Linked DNA regions of Homo sapiens: region 2 is linked to region 1. The links come from fine-mapping of genetic effects on gene expression. A gene starts in region 1. The other region holds a variant in brackets. All regions are shown on one strand. Distances are between the middles of the regions.

Region 1 (4,468 bases):
CAGCCTTTGCTGGGGCTCTTTCCTTGGTTTGCATGTCCTTCCCAGTCCTCAGTTACTGCCTATAATCTCCTCATCCTTCACGGCTCAGTTCTTTTGAAGCCTTGCTGGATCCCCACAGACAGACACACTGATTGCATCCTTCTTTGCTCCCCCGCTGCTGTGTTTACATCTTTTAGAGCACTTGTCATGGTCTTTCTGGGTGACAGTTGTCCGGGTTCGTCTGTCTTCTTCTTCTGCCACATTCACCTGCCTTGAGGCAGAGACTGTGTCTGATTCCTCTTCATATTGCCCAGCACCTGGCACCCTGTGAGATACAGAATAGGTTCCCCACCAACATTTGAAATGAAGAGAATTATAAAGAAACATGGAATAAACATTGAACCTAATGTAGTTTGACCTAGATGCCTACACTTGAAATATGTAAGTTCTATATTTAATCAGTGAACAACTATGTATTTAATAGACCAAGGGGAGCTATTGACCATACTTGAGCAGGGCAATGACGTAGACCTCTGTTTTAGGAAGATCTGCTTGACTATATGATTTATAATGACCATGGAAAATTCATCTTTTTGACTCCCTTAAAAGTCCCCTCCCTACAAAGTATGCAAAACAAATCTTACCTAATGCAGGGGGACATTGAGGTTTTGCTTGTAAAGGGTCTAAAGAGCTTCCTCTAAAAGGTGATTGCAAGGTGTGAAGCCTTTAATGACAGCCTAATTATTATTATTACCAGGCACAAAGCTTAGGGAACCTAAAAGATCCCCAGGTACTATTCAAAGTAGTAAGATACAAAAACTGAAAATGGAGAAATTAAAAGATGGAATCATTAAATCAGAGACTCTTAATGTTGGCAGAGACCTTAGAAGTGATCTTTCCTGATTCTGTTCTCTCATCTTCCTATGCTGATGCTTATTCTTCCTTTAGAAGGTTCCTACCCAGTGCTTGCTGTTATTAGAGCCTAAGAGTTAAGAGCTGGGGCCTGATGGTGGCATTTACTGTGTTTAAATGCCCAATCTCTTTCATTAGCAGTGAAAACTTGGGGTGAGTTTTTAGACCTCTGTTTCTTCATCTATAAAATGGGCATGAGGCTACCTACACAGGTATTGTACAAATAAATGATGCAGGTGCATTTCTTAGCATGGTACCTGGCACATTCAAAATAGTGAATAAACATTAGCCTTAAAAATTATTTTAGCTAATTAATTAATATATGTGAAAGTGCATAGGAAATCACAAAGCATTTGACCTCCAAGTTGTTCCTATTTTGGGGCTTCATTGTACATGGTCAGATATTTTTTACAAATCCCAGTCCTTGTAGCTGTCACTCAAGTCCACATGATATACAGTCCTGGTGAGGGAAGTGAAGAGTCTGTGGATAAAATGGCCTATTCATATGGCAAAGCAAAATGGAGTCCAAAGTCTATTATTTCTTTCTTACTAAAGACAAAGTTGACTTTCCTTTTCCTGGATCATCTCCTGTTGGACAGGAGTCCTGGCCAGGGCAGTAAGTCAACTGGTAACGGCCAAAGCACTCAAGTTTGTAGGTTGTACTGTACATCTTAGTAGGTCTGTGTCTTTATGACTTAATCCCAGAAGTCTTATCTTTTTCATCTGTAAAACAGGGCTCATGGCCACTTTACAGGTTTGGAGTGAAGATAGATGGATAAAAATCTGTAAAGTTCCTTCAAAAACTGTATTCTGTGGCGGCTAGTGGCTGCTGCTTTGCATTTAACACTACTATCCTGAACACAGCTGATCTCTCTACAGGTTATTTCAGCAGAAGCCCTGGTCTAGGAGAGTCTATGAAGTTCCAGCTTACACCAGACATGACCAGCATCCAGAAAGACCTGAAAGAAGCTTGAATCCTCTCACTAGAATCCCTGCAAAATGACTCATGTAATTGCTCTGTGTAAGTATCCTTAGTCTTTATTGTACACCCACACGATTCTGATGCTATAGACTCCTGTGGAATGCAGGGAAAGAGAGAAGGGGGCCCATTTTAAATGCCTAGGATTGAAAAGAGACCACCGTTTCACTTGTAAAGGTAGACAGGGACTGTCAAATACCTGGTCAAAATACCTGCCAGTCACTCCAGATCCTCCCTTGTTTGTCTATCTGTCATTCCTTCCATTAGGAGAGAGAAAGCTTTTTTTTTTTTTTCCTTTAAATTTCCTAGGAGGGATTTCTAGGGTCTTTCCCTCAGGAATTAGTTGTAGGAATAATTGGGCCAGTGGAGTGCAGGAGATATATCCAGCGCAGCCCATGCACTCCTAGAAAAAGTGACCTAGATCAAGCAGCTGGTGGATTGAGGACTATTGTGGGGACCCCCTGCCACCTACTGACTTACAGCTGAACCCACATTCCCAGCAGCTTCAGCCTGGGGGCTGGGGGAGCGGGCAGACCGAGCTCAGAAAGGCAGGGGAGGGTAAAGAGGACTGTGGGGTTGCCCCTTTCAGGACCAAGTGCCACGTGTCACACACCCCCACCTCCACCTTTCTGCACACACAGAAAGGAGGATAAGGTGAGGATGGGAGGAAGGGGGAACAGGTAGGGAGGTCGGCTGTGGAACTCCAAGCTAGCTCGGTGGGTATTAGCATAGAGCTTGCTGCCTGTGTGAGTGTGAGGGGGAGAGCGAGAGAGAGCAAGGGAGGGAGAGAGAGGCAGGCTGCGAGGGGAGAGGAGAGGGAGTGGGGGAGCCAGCGCTCCAGCTAGCATGAGGACGGGCTTCTTTTCCCGTGCTCAGTTAATCTGGCTGTCAGTTGGTGTTAACGCTGCAGTTTAAGTGTTCGGATTCCAAGGGAAACAGACAAACCTCACGAAAGGAAGGAAGCAAGCAAGCAAGGAAGGAACTGCAGGAGGAAAAGAACAGGCAGAACAGCGAGAAGAATAAAGGGAAAGGGGGGGAAACACCAAATCTATGATTGGACCTGGGCTTCTTTTTCGCCAATGCAAAAAGGAATATGCAGCACATTTTTGCCTTCTTCTGCACCGGTTTCCTAGGCGCGGTAGTAGGTGCCAATTTCCCCAACAATATCCAGATCGGTGAGTGAGGGGGCAGCCTGGGGAGGGACTTTCTGGGTCTGGCCAGGGATTTTTTTGGGGATAGGGGTTGTGTACCCCCTCCCCGGTACTGACTGTTTTGCTTGGCTCCCTAAAGCTGTGCTGCGGTAACAGAAGGGAGACTTGGGCTTACAGCCAGAGGAGGGGGCTTCTCCTGATCGGATGAGGGGCAGAGGGGAAGTGTTCACACACGCACACATACCCTACTCGCACTCCAGGCAAGAGCATGTGAAATGGAGGAACCATCGCTTTGGAGGAAAAAAAAAATCAGGCTGGAAAGGGTGGTGGGTGTTTAAGGAGTTAACTCTATTGCTTGGTAGATGGTGCTTGATTCCATTTTTAATGTAAGTATGTATGGTGTGTGTGTTTTCACGTGTGTGATTATATATTACATATGCACATATATATGTAATTGAAGGAGGCAGTGCTTTCTCTGCTGGGGGACAGAAAAGAGACCCTCGAGAAGAAGGAGTGAGGGGTGCTGGGTATATTGCAGCCACTGAAATAATGCCAGAAGGCCCCCACTCCAAGGCGGGTAGGCTCCCTCTCCTGTTCTGGACTCCTCCAGCTGCCTTCTCTTTGCTGTCTGCCATGCTGCGCTGGTGGTCTCCACTCCCCCGATCCTGGAACTTCCTCGCCTGCCTTTTCTCCGTTCCTTCCTTGCCCCCTCCTCTTAGATTTCCTATCCACAGAGGTCTACCTTTTACACACACAAACACACACACGTACACATGCTCCTTTCTCCTCCTGTTGGCTCTCCATTATCCTTGTTACTGGGCTCCATCCTCTCAACTTGGAGGCAGGTTTCAACATGCTGCATGCTTTTTTTGTTCCCCATTTCCCCTTCTTAGTTGTTACACTTCTCAAAGGCCCCGCCACCCTCCCTGTATTTCTGAGGGGACTGACAGATATTGCTACTCCTGATAATCATGAGGGAAAGCAAAACAAACAGAAGCAATAACACCAATCACAAAGCATGTCCACAAGGGCTTGGGGCTTCCGTGTGACCAGCATGTCAGTGTCGTTTGTGTCCCGGAATGAAGCAAGCTGCTGTGTTTGGAAGCATCTTCGTTGGTTTGGTTTCTAGTCTCTCTCCCCTGGTAGGGAGATAGCTCCACTAGGGAAAGTTCGCATTGCTGGGAGTTTGTGCTCTTTTGTGAGTGTGTGTTTGAGGGGGGATGTGGTGCAATTGATATTTTGTCGGGCATACATGTGCTGCAGTACCCATCTCTTTCAGCCTCTCCAGCTAGCTGGCGGCTTGGAGTGGCCATGGAGTAACTTGCTTTGTTTCCTGACACCTGTTAAGCTACATCCTGAAGTGTGTACGTATCTGTGTGTTAGTGCCTAACACGCAAAACTTCCTGCCTTCAGGGGAGACACTTCCCTTGTAGCCCAGCCCGTAGCC
Region 2 (4,000 bases), 31 kb after region 1:
GGCACGGTGGCTTACGCCTGTAATCCCAGCACTTTGGGAGGCCGAGGTGGGCAGATCACAAGGTCAGGAGATCGAGACCATCCTGGCTAACACCGTGAAACCCCGTCTCTACCAAAAATACAAAAAATTAGCCGGGCATGATGGCACGCACCTGTAGTCCAGCTCCTCAGGAGGCTGAGGCAGGAGAATCGCTGGAATCGGGAGGTGGCAGCTGCAGTGAGCCAAGATCACGCCACTGCACTCCAGCCTGGACGACAGAGCGAGACTCCATCTCAAAAAAAAAGGAAAGAAAAGAAATGCCAATTCGAGGGTCTCAGGCCGGACCTCCTGAATCAGAAACTTTGGAGTTGGGGCTCAGCACTCTGTTTTAACAGGCCCCGCAGATGATTCTGAAGATGCTCACCAAAGTTTGACAACCACTACCTATTGAATGACTTAATTTTATGGGATACTAGATCAGACTAGATCAGAGTCTGAAGTTTTTCTGTAACTCAGTTCTCATCTTAACGCTGTGAGTGTAGATTGCTCTCAATCCACGGCTGAAGAAGCCAGATTGTGACTGAATAAAGCCAGTTACCCTGCCTGACCCTGGCTCCAGGACCTGCAGCATGTAAAACATCATCCAGGAGTGCAGCCCCTGTGAAGACAGCTGACCTGAAGGGCATGGAGTCTGTGACCCCATCCACCTTGAGAAGCATGCTTCAACCAGCAAAGGAAAGACAGTCCTAGACAAGGAAACATCATCAAGTCTCTCTGTAGGAATACTTCATATCAGACCATATTGCCATGTGTTGAAGATTATTATATAATGATAATAATTAGTACAATAGTAATACCATACATTTTGATTACATTTTTGACATTTTCAAGGCATGTTTATATTCTAATAATCTATTTTCCCTCTTGATAATTTTATTTTCTCCCTTAAAAATCTCTCCAGTTACACAAAGTAGAGTAGGAGTGAAAGGATTGTTAATCTGTTAATCTGCCTGTCCAGGGGAGAGGCAAAGTAAAGAGATGTATCTGTGATTTCATGGCCTGTTAGGTTCGTAGTAACAATAGCTAATGTGTGTTAGGGAGCTTAAGTGGGCCAGGCTCTTTGCTAGATATGTCAGTGCTTATTAATTTAATAAAACCTCTAGACCCAAGGCTTCCAGACTCCCAACTGGTCTCCTTCAGCAAGCAGCGTTTCTTTTCTTTCACCTCACTCTGAATTCTTCAGACTCTCTAGTCATTCATTTATTTTATTCATTCAACTTTTATTTAGCTTATACATCCTACAGAGAAGGTGAAGGGCACAGAGGTGAATGTGCTGGCCCACAAATTGCTAGCTCTCTCAGGGGAATCCAGAACAATGCAGTGCCACCCACAGTGGAGCCTTGAAGGACAAAGGCAAATTATTTACCAAATCAAAAGTTGCCAGATTCAAGATTCTCTGCAGTTCTTTGAGGTTTGAGCTTGGTGCATAAGAAGAAAGGGGGATTTTGTTCTAATGAAAGACAGGACACAAGGGCCTACCTACAAAAATTGCTGCAATAAATGAGGACATCATTAAAATTGTCTTTGTGGGGGCCCATGGATATGGAAGTGAGTAGGGAAGATGTATACAAGCAATGGAAGGAATAAAAGACAGAAGACTTCCTAGATCTAGTGCTAGAGGCTCCATAGTTCTGTTCCTTACAAATGCTGTAACTTTGGGCCAGCCTCCCAACCTATTCAACCTTCTGCTTCCTTCTCCATGAAATAAGAACCTGGATTTCTTACTCACCTGATTCACAGGGAACCTCTGAAAATCAAACGTAAGAATTAGTAATAGTAATAATAACAATATAAATAGCTAACATCTATTGAGCAATTATATTTCTTACTTTCACTGGCTTATTTCATTTAATCATGAAAGCATTTCCATGAAGCAG[G/A]TAATGTTTTAGGCCCCAGTTTATAGATTATAAAAACAGAGGTTTAGTAAATTACTAAGTTCACCCACCCTTAACAAGCAGTGGAACAAGGATTTGAATTCAGATCTGTCTGATCTTTGAACCTATTACTATTAAATCACTACCCCAGAATTCAAAAACAAATGAGGAAAACTCTGCGAGTCATGCTGATGAAATGAGCGGAATCAAAAGAGGGAACAAAAGGGAGGGCCTGGGGTCAGAGGCTGTTAGCTTGGCATGAAGGATGGAAAGCATTTCCAGATACCATGTCCTGAGTGAGCACAATGCTTAGGCTATGCAGCAGACCCTGGACAGTGGACCAAGGTTTAAGAGTCAGTGTGAACTTTCAGGAAGAAGAGTTTATGCAGAGTAACACATGCCATAAACAGAAGAAAGTATCAGGGACCAGAGAAACAGAGTAAGAGGCAGAGCTGGAGTCAGGCAGCTGCAGATTCCAATGGCCTCTGACTTTCTGCTGTAGCTGCAAAGGTACATTTTATTTAACTCCATGCCCAGCCCTGTGGCAGTCTGGGAGCCCTTTGACAGAACTACAGCTTCCACATCTGGCTCAGTGGGGAAGGAGAAATAGATCTTCCCGGGCAAAAAGAAGCAGCTCAGTCTTGCTGCCTTCCCTTGAGTCTGGACAGAACCATCCTCGGTGGTGAGCTTCCCAGAGCCTTTTGGGAGTGGCTCAGGGGACCAATTTGCTTCCTTGAAGAATTTTGAATAGCTTCAGATGTAGCTCTGGTGGTTGAAGCTAAGGACAATAATGAAAATAATATGATAGCTGACATTCATTGAACTCTAATCAGGGGCTTGTTTTAAGGCATATTTTAGGCTCTATGCACTGTTGTGTGTCTTGCTGCTCTCATTACACCAAAGATATTATAGCACACCCACATCTCACATTGAATCTGATTTATGTGTGAGTTGAGTGGCATTGCTGCACACTAGTTGGTGCAATGACATGTTTTATAGATATTTAAATATTTATTAATTTGATTTTACAGTTTGCTTTTAATATTTCAGAGTCAATATATTTATTTTTCTGGTCAGACATACTTTTTAGGCCCACCCTTCAAAAGACTGTAGGACCCAGACACTGAGTTTTCTCATGCCACCTGGAGAAAGTGATCCTGTAATTATTGTGTTGGGAGCTGAGTGCTCCCACACATTGCCTGTGGATAAGTGTAAGACTCTGGAATTAAACTGCCTTAGGTTTGAATCCTGAACCCACTACTTTCTAGCTGTGTAATCTTTGGCAAGTGCCATATCCTATTTGTGCCTCAGTTTTCTCATTTGCAAGATGGTTATTGTAAGGACTGAATCAGAGAACACATAAACAGTTTAAAATACTACCTGTAACCTGTATCATGGCATGTAAAGTTGTTATTATTGATATTTAAAATGTCCCAGTGAGGTAGCCACTATAGTTATTCCCATTTTGAAAATGAAGTCAATTTGATGAATGGTGGAGAGGGACATTGAACTCAGGTGGTCTGACCGTAGAGCTCATATTCATAATGAGTAAGAGTTTGTATCAGTCAAGTTAGGCCAGGTTATACCACAGTAACAAATGACCCCCAAACTTCCATGGGCTAATATAACATGAGTTTATTTCTTGGTCATGCTGCAAGTCCAACACAAAATGGTGGGGGAGTGGGGAGAGGCATTGCTCCTCATGCTTCCTTAGGGACCCAAGCTGAAAGAGGGACCATCCTAACATGATCACAGTGTCAAAGGAACTTATGTAATAAGCCACACCCTGGCTCTAAAGCCTTATTCCCAAGGTCACGGACATCATTTCCACACACAGTTCATTGGATCAAGCAAGTTGATGGCCAGGCTTAACTTTAAAGGAGGTAGAAAAGTGAAATCTTACCATGTAACTGCAAAATTGGGAATAGCTAAATGTTATCTCAGAGGAAGGTTTTGAGGATCAAATTAATTAATCTATGAAATTATCAAAAATAGGGCCTAGAACATAGAAAAATCTTCTTTAATGTTAGGTATGAATTCTTATTAATTAATGAATTGCCTCTTGTAGCAGCTCTCCTGTATAAATA

What was found. PIP is the estimated chance that this variant, and not a neighbour inherited with it, causes the effect. A credible set is the group of variants that fine-mapping cannot tell apart.
Region 2: its variant is the best candidate, but not a certain one, in a credible set for the expression of GRIA1 in atrial appendage (GTEx, PIP 0.64).

The regions. Positions count from the first base shown.
Region 1 is chr5:153,487,926-153,492,393 of GRCh38, forward strand. GRIA1 (glutamate ionotropic receptor AMPA type subunit 1) reads left to right here and starts at 2,745. Exons shown (of 16, transcript NM_000827.4): 1 at 2,745-3,045. The coding sequence starts at 2,964.
Region 2 is chr5:153,518,988-153,522,987 of GRCh38, forward strand. All of the region lies in intron 2 of GRIA1 (glutamate ionotropic receptor AMPA type subunit 1), which reads left to right. Among named protein-coding and RNA genes, the nearest start is that of GRIA1, 30 kb to the left of the region's middle. The variant G/A (reference allele first, on the strand shown) is at 1,917.